Homo sapiens: one gene and its partner. The protein of the gene in region 2 purifies or fractionates together with the protein of the main gene of each other region. This does not show direct contact. Each region holds a gene or a part of one and is shown on either strand. Other genes may lie near its edges.

The links. Proteins that work in one complex are often made in the same cells at the same time.
Region 1: the proteins of RPS6KA5 (region 2) and MAP1B purify together in Homo sapiens (affinity purification with mass spectrometry; one large-scale study listed by BioGRID and IntAct). This does not show direct contact.

The regions. Positions count from the first base shown.
Region 1 is NC_000005.10:72,197,975-72,201,474, reverse strand, and holds part of MAP1B (microtubule-associated protein 1B), read right to left. Parts: coding exon 1,108-3,500; intron 1-1,107. UniProt on the Homo sapiens protein: Facilitates tyrosination of alpha-tubulin in neuronal microtubules. Phosphorylated MAP1B is required for proper microtubule dynamics and plays a role in the cytoskeletal changes that accompany neuronal differentiation and neurite extension.
Region 2 is NC_000014.9:91,050,410-91,054,525, reverse strand, and holds part of RPS6KA5 (ribosomal protein S6 kinase alpha-5), read left to right. Parts: intron 1-2,063; exon of another isoform or gene 2,064-2,203; intron 2,204-4,116. UniProt on the Homo sapiens protein: Serine/threonine-protein kinase that is required for the mitogen or stress-induced phosphorylation of the transcription factors CREB1 and ATF1 and for the regulation of the transcription factors RELA, STAT3 and ETV1/ER81, and that contributes to gene activation by histone phosphorylation and functions in the regulation of inflammatory genes.

The sequences.
Region 1 (3,500 bases), on a different chromosome or scaffold from region 2:
TAAATCTGAGAATCATGACCAAAAACATGAATGATCAAAAATCAGGGATACCTGCTCTTGCCAAGTGGCATTTCATTTGCTTATTTATTTATTTTTGAGAGACAGGGTCTTGCTCTGTCACCCAGGCTTGGCATGCAGTGATACATACAATTCTGGCTCACTGCAGCCTTGATCTCTTGGGCTGAAGTGATCCTCCTGCCTCAGCCTCCCAAGTAGCTAAGACTATAAGCACGTGCCACCACACCCAGCTAATTAAAAAACATTTTTTTTTTTTTGTGGAGACAGGGTCTTGCTATGTTGCACAGGCTGGTCTCAACTTCCTGGGCTGAAGCTAACCTTCCATCTCAGCCTCCCAAAGTGCTGAAATTACAGGCATGAGGCCATGCATCTAGCTTCCCAGTGGAATTTTAATCTGAAATAGCATTGAGTCTCTACTAATGAGGCCATGGGGTAAGAGAAGGGTAAGAGCAGAGCCATCAATGTTTTTCTCTCAATTTTCACCGGACACTCACTGGTCAACTGAAATTATAGTATTTTTTGGCTGATAAGAAAATGGAACACTGCCTTTAATGAGGATTTATCTCCAACCTGGTGATGTTTTAAATAAAAATGTAAACATTTTTAATTTAAAAAAAATTTTTTTTAAAAAAGGACTCTAAATCTTGGGTCTAGACTGGTTGATCCAGTCTTGATGTGAAACCTCTGGTTCTCCTTAGGCCTTTGGGAGCTCCTGGCCTGTGTTACCCTGCTGGATTCTGAGGCCAGTATGGCTGAAACCAGTCTTCCAGAAGCACCTGAAAGACACATCCTTGGTTCTGAAGATTTAGAACAGGGCTGTAGTTGCTGTGTTCGAAAACGGCACAAAATCAGGAATCCCAGTGATGAATCACAGCTGCTTTGAACCATACACTGAGCTATTTCCAAGCCTTAAGGCCACACTGGACTGAGATATATACCTTTGGGCAGAGGAGAAGAGTACAGGGAAGGTAAAGCATCAATTGTGCTCCCTCATCTTCCCAGTACAAAGCCAAACAGGGAAATATAAAGGCTGTAAACGCAAGTAGAATGGTTGTGACATATATCCAATGCCCAGCCTTCTCAACCTACCTGCAGTGGCGGTCTTGGCCGACTTGGATGCAGAGGCATTGGCAGCATTCTTGGTCTCCTTGTCTTTCTCTTCCCCACGTGCAGCTTTGACCTCAGGAGTGGTGGTGGGTTTTGCTGCCTTTTCCACAGATTCTTTCTTCTTAGGAGAAGCCACCCTGGACACTTTATCCGAGGATTCTTTCAAGCCCGCTGGTTTTGGTGAAGCTGCCAAGGGCTTAGACTTCCCATCACTCTTTTTGACAGGTGAAGATGACTTGGTCTTTGTACCTGGCTTTTTGGTTTTGGTCTTCTCTTTCAGATCTTTCTTTAGAGCTTTGCCCAGGTTCTGCTCAATGGCCAAGGCCTCTGGGTCCACCATGGACACATCAGGGTGGCGTGGCGAAGGGCTGCGGTCTTGCACGGGAGCTGGAGGTGGGTCCATGTGTTTGTACGTGACAGTTTTGTCTGTGGGGATGGTTTCCGACTCGTCTTCAGAGTCGATATTGGCATCGGCCGTGATGGAGGGGCACTCTTCAGTCTCCGGGGGAACATCAGAGTCGGTCTGGGATGGGGCTGACTCGCTGACTGAGGTGGGAGGGGTTTCATCACACTGTCGGCCCTGTTGCTTTCCTCCTGGAGGCGGTGGGGCTCCCCCTGATTGAGTGAGGGGCTTTTCAGATTCTTCAGTGGGTTCTTCACTGGCAAACCACTCAAGAGGATTGGGATTAATGAAAGAGGGTGAAAGCTCTGTCTTGGGGTGCTTGTATTCACAAGAGGACACGAGGCATAAATCGACATCCTGACGGGCTTCTGAGGGGGACTTCTTTTCTGCAGTGTAGCATAGGTCTGAAGTCTCGTAGGAATATGTGGATGCCTGAGGGGTTCTAGTGATTTTCTCTGCAGTCTCGTAACAGTATGTGGAAGTATCAGGGGTTCGTGTTGTCTTTGTAGATGTCTCATAGGAATAACCTTCAGACTCAGGGAAACTGGTAATTTTCTCAGTGGTTTCATAAGAGTAGCTGGGGTCCCCAAGTGTGTGGCCACCATCCTCAGAGTCATCATAGCCATTGCTGATGTCATCCAGAAGCCTTCTAGACCTCTCAGTCTTTTCATAGCTGTAACCACTCACTTCGGGGGGGCTGGTGGTCTTTTCACTTATGTCATATGAGTACCCACCCTCTTCAGGGGTCCGTGTGGTCTTCTCAATAATTTCATAGGAATAGTCACCATCTTCAGGGGTCTTGGTAGTTTTCCCAATGGTCTCATAGGAGTAGCCACTGTCACTTGGAGATTTTGTGGTTCTCTCTATCTTCTCATAGTAATAGCCACCCACATCTGAGGTCCGGGTGGTCTTCTCATAAGACTCATAGTCATAATCTTCTTCATCTGGGGACCTGGTTGTTTCCTCAGGCTTTTGATAGGCATAGCTAAAGTCACCAGGTGTCTTCCCTCCACTGTCCTTCTCCAGGCCAGGTGTGGACAAATCTCTATTCAAGGCTAGATGGTGTTGCATTGTATCGAATAACACTGAGGCACGGAAGCCATAGGGCTCTGCGGATGCTGCATCTATTGGTGGAGAAGAGGAACTGTGGCAAGTTGCTGTTTTCTCTTTGACTGCAGAGGTAGAATCTGAAAAAGTAGGTGAATATAAAGGAGAGGACTCTCGTGGGGTGAGTGGAGAGATATCAGATTTTGGAGAGAGCTTCTCTCCTTCCAGACTTTGCACTTTTTCAGAGGTGAGTGAGGCATATAAGGACATATCTCTGGGAGGAGCAACATCGGATAGAGTATCTTCTTGGAGAGGAGAAGCGATCTGAGAAGGGGTATGAGCAGAAGAGGTGGACGGGGAGGCCTCTACCTGAGATACTGAGATGAGCTCAGAAAGATCATTATCTTGGGTGTAGGACGGCTCCTCCATAGGTGGTATCTTATGTGATAAACTGGAGTCCTGCATGTCAGAAGGACTGTAGTCCACTTCAGTTGGCCCATTTTCAGTGATGTGAAGCACGCCTGCACCCACTGTAGGGTGATCTGGAGACTGTCGACTGAAGTCCATAGCAAGGGATTGCTCAGGAGATTCTTGGCCAAATTCAATAGACATTGAGGACTGTTCAGATCTGTGATCTTGAACGGGTGTCCTGGACTTTGCAGTTTTAGGGGAGAAATCTGGTGGAGAAATTGACATCGGTCTTGGGCATTCTTCTTTAGATGGAGACATTTCTGTTTCCTGGAATGTGGTAGGTGTTTGCACAACAGACACTGAAAGGGAGTCATCTACTTCTGTGGAATGTGGGGAGCCAACCTCAGCATGCAGAGATGGAGACACATCATCTGTTGTTGGCTCTGGAAATGAGCTCGTAGCCACTGAGGCTGTGGACACTGAGGCCACACCCTCCATATGAGAGTACGTGTCT
Region 2 (4,116 bases):
AGCTAGGATTACAGGCGAGTGCCACCATGCCTGGCTAATTTTTGTATTTTCAATAGAGACGAGGTTTCACCATGTTGGCCAGGCTGATCTTGAACTCCTGTCCTCAAGGGATCCACCTGCCTCAGCCTCCCAAAGTGTTGGGATTACAGGTGTGAGCCACCGCTCCTGGCCCTAAAAGTCTTTAATGTTGATGAAACCTTTTTTTTTTCTTTTTCATTTTATTCTTGTGTCTAAGAAATCATTGACTAATTCAAGATTATGAAGATTGATGTCTCTGTTTTCTTCTAAGAGTTTATGGCTTTAGCTGTTACATTTAGATCATTGATCCATTTTAAGGTAATTGCTGGATATCATGTGAGGTAGTGATTCAGACTCATTCTTCTGCATGTAAATATCCAATTGTTCCAGCACCATTAGCTGAAAAGACTATTTTTTTCTCCATTTTAATGTCTTGGCACCCTTATTGAAAATCAGTTGACTATAGATGTATGGGTTTATTTATTTTATACTCTCAGTTCTCTTCCAGTGATCTATATGTCTCTCCTTATAGCAGTACCATGCTGTCTTGACTACTACAGTTTTTTAGTAAGTTTTGAAATTGAGAAGTGTGAGTCTTATTCTTCAACATTGTTTTGGTTATTCTGGATTCCTTGTATTTCCATATGGATTCTAGGATCAGCTTGTTAGTGTCTGCAAAGAAGCCAACTCAGTGGCATTCTGATAGGGATCTCATTGAATTTTTAGTTAAACTTTGGCAGTGTTGCCATCTTAGCAATGTTAAGTCGTCTGATCTATGAACATGAGATGTCTTTCCATTTATTTAGGTTGTCTTCAATTACTTTCAACAACGTTTTTCCGTTTAAGGAGTATAAATTTGCACTTTTGTTAAATTTATTTCTAAGTATTTTATTATTTATTTATTTTTTGATGCTATAGTAAAAGGAACTAGTTTCTTACTTTTATTTTTGGATTGTTCATTCCAAGAGTATAGAGGTACAGTTTTTACCTTGTGTCCTGCAACCTTGGTGAACTAGTTTATTGGTTCTAATAGTTTAGTGGACACCTTAGGATTTTCTATTTATAAGATTGTGTTAGCCATGGATAGAGATAATTTTACTTCTTTCTTTCCAATCCAGATATCTTTTGTTTCAATTTCCTGCTTAATTGCCTTGGCCAGAACCTTCACTATGGTTCAATAGAACTTGCAAGAGCAGACATCCTTGTCTTATTCCTGATCCTAGGGTGAAAGCTTTAGTCTTCTACCACTGAGTATGGGGTTAGCTATGGGTTTTTCATAGATGTATTTTATCAAATTGAAGAATTTCACTTCTCCTCCTAGTTTGGGTGTTTTTTTAAATCATGAAAGAGTGCTGGATTTTGTCAGATGCTTTTTTCTGCATCTATTAAGATGACCATTTTTTTTGTTCTGTTCATATGGTGTATTACATTAATTAACTTTTGAATGTTAAGCCAACCTTGTATTCCTGGGATAAATCTTGTTTGTCATGGTATATAATCCTTTTTCTTTGTTGCTGGATTCAGTTTGCTTGTATTTTATTAAGGATTTGTATCTATATCCATAAGAAATCTTTGTAGTGTTCTTTTTTGGTGATACCTCTGTCTAGTCTCCCCAAAATATTCTTGATTGAGTTCTGTCACCAACTAAAGAGCTTTTTTTTTTTTTTTTTTTTTGGAGATGGAGTCTCGCTCTGTTCCCAGGCTGGAGTACAGTGACGCGAACTCTGCTCACTGCCAGCTCTGCCTCCTGGGTTCACGCCATTTCTCCTGCCTCAGCCTCCCAAGTAGCTGGGACTACAGGCACCTGCCACCACGCCCAGCTAACTTTTTTTTTTTTTTGTACTTTTAGTAGAGACGGGGTTTCATCGTGTTAGCCAGGACGGTCTCGATCTCCTGACCTCATGATCCATCCGCCTTGGCCTCCCAAAGTACTGGGATTACAGGCTTGAGCCACCGCGCTTGCCTAAAGATCTTATCTATTTGATTAGTGGTATCCATATTTACAATCTCTTAAGTAAATCTGTTTTTTTTTTTTTTTTTTTAAGAGACGAGTCTACTCTGTTGCCCAGGCTGGAGTGTGGTGCTGATCTCGGCTCACTATAACCTCCGCCTCCTGGGTTCAAGTGATTCTCCTGCCTCAGCCTCCCAAGTGGCTGGGATTACAGGCACCCACTACCATACCCAGGTAATTTTTTTTTTTTTTTTTTTTTTTTTTTTTTTTTAGTAGAGATGGGGTTTTGCCATGTTGGCCAGGCTGGTCTTGAACTCCTTACCTCAGATGATCCATCTGCCTGGGCCTCCCAAAGTGCTGGGATTACAGGCATGAGCCACTGCATCTGGCCTTAAGTAAAGATTTAACAGAGGTAGGGAGTGGACTGTAGTTCTAAGTCAGCCCCTAATTTGCTATATGACCTGGGATAAGTCATTTTGCCTTTCTGAGCCCAAGTTTTTTGATTCATAAAGTAAAGGTGATGGACTGAGTTATAATCAAAGTATTTACGAGCATTAAAGCTCTTCTGTGGCATTTCCATGGAAATTCTGGTATAGACAAAGTTAGTTCCTTGTCTTTTCCCGATCCTAGGGGGAAGGCTTTAGTCTTCTACCACTGAGTATGAAGTTAGCTGTGAGTTTTTCATAGATGTTCTTTCTCAGGTTGACAAAGTTCTCTTCTATTCCTAGTTGGTTTGGGTGAGCTTTTTCTTTTTTTTTTAAATCTTTCGGCCAGACATGGTGGCTCATGCCTGTAATCCCAGCACTTTGGGAGGCCGAGGCAGGTGGATCACCTGAGGTCAGGAGTTCGAGACCAGCCTGGCCAACATGGTGAAACCCCATCTCTAGTAAAAATACAAAAACTTAGCTGGGCACGGTGGCGGGCACCTGTAATCCCAGCTACTTGGAAGCTGAGGCAGGAGAATTGCTTGAACCTGGGAGGCGGAGGTTGCAGTGAGCTGCGATCGCACCATTGCATTCCAGCCTGGGCAACAACAGCAAAACTCTGTCTCAAAAAAATAAAAAAATAAAAGGATGTTTCATGATAAAAAGTCCAGAGTGGTGATTTACTTTATTGTTGTTGTATTTTAAAATTTCATTTTATTGAGACAGAATCTCACTATGTTGCCCAGGCTGGTCTTGAACTCCTGGGCTCAAGCAGTCTTCCCATCTCTGCCTCCCAAAGTGTGGAGATTACAGGTATGAGCCACCATTCCCGGCTAGTGATTTACTTTATTTATTTATTTATTTATTTATTTATTTATTTATTTATTTTTATTTAGACAGGGTCCCACTCTGTCGCTCAGGCTGGAGTGCAATGGCGTGATCTCAGCTCACTGCAACCACTGCCTCCTGGGTTCAAGTGATCCTCCCACCTCAGCCTCCCAAGTAGCTGGGACTACAAGTGTGTGCCACCACACACCGCCACGCTTAGCTTATTTTTGTATTTTTTGGTAGAGGTGGGGTTTCGCTATGTTGGCCAGGCTGGTCTGGAACTCCTGACCTCACGTGCTCCACCTGCCTCGACCTCCCAAATGGCTGGAATTACAGACATGAGCCACCACACCTGACCCTATGATTTACTTTAAAAGATCATCCTGTTTTACCAAAGGATTCATGTTGGATCTGTTGAAAAACAACAGTTCCCTGCTGCTTTTTGAATGTGGTTCCATTAATAATGATTTGATTTGTAATTAGCTTTTAAGAAACATAACTATTAGTTCCAATAAGATACTTGCTTTTTTTTTATTTTTATTTTTTTAAACAAACATAGCTTACAAAAGCAAGCCGGCTGGGCGCGGTGGCTCACGCCTGTAATCCCAGCACTTTGGGAGGCTGAGGCGGGTGTATCACCTGGGGTCGGGAGTTTGAGACCAGCCTGGCCAACATGGTGAAACCCTGTCTCTACTAAAAATACAAAAATTAGCCAGCCATGGTGGCAGATGCCTATAATCCCAGCTACTTGGGAGGCTTAGGCAAGAGAATTGCTTGAACCTGGGAGGCGGAAGTTGCAGTGAGCCGAGATTGTGCCACTGCACTCCAGCCTGAGGGACAGAGTCAGACTGTGCCAAAAACAAACAAACAAACAAAAAACAAGCCAATAAGATG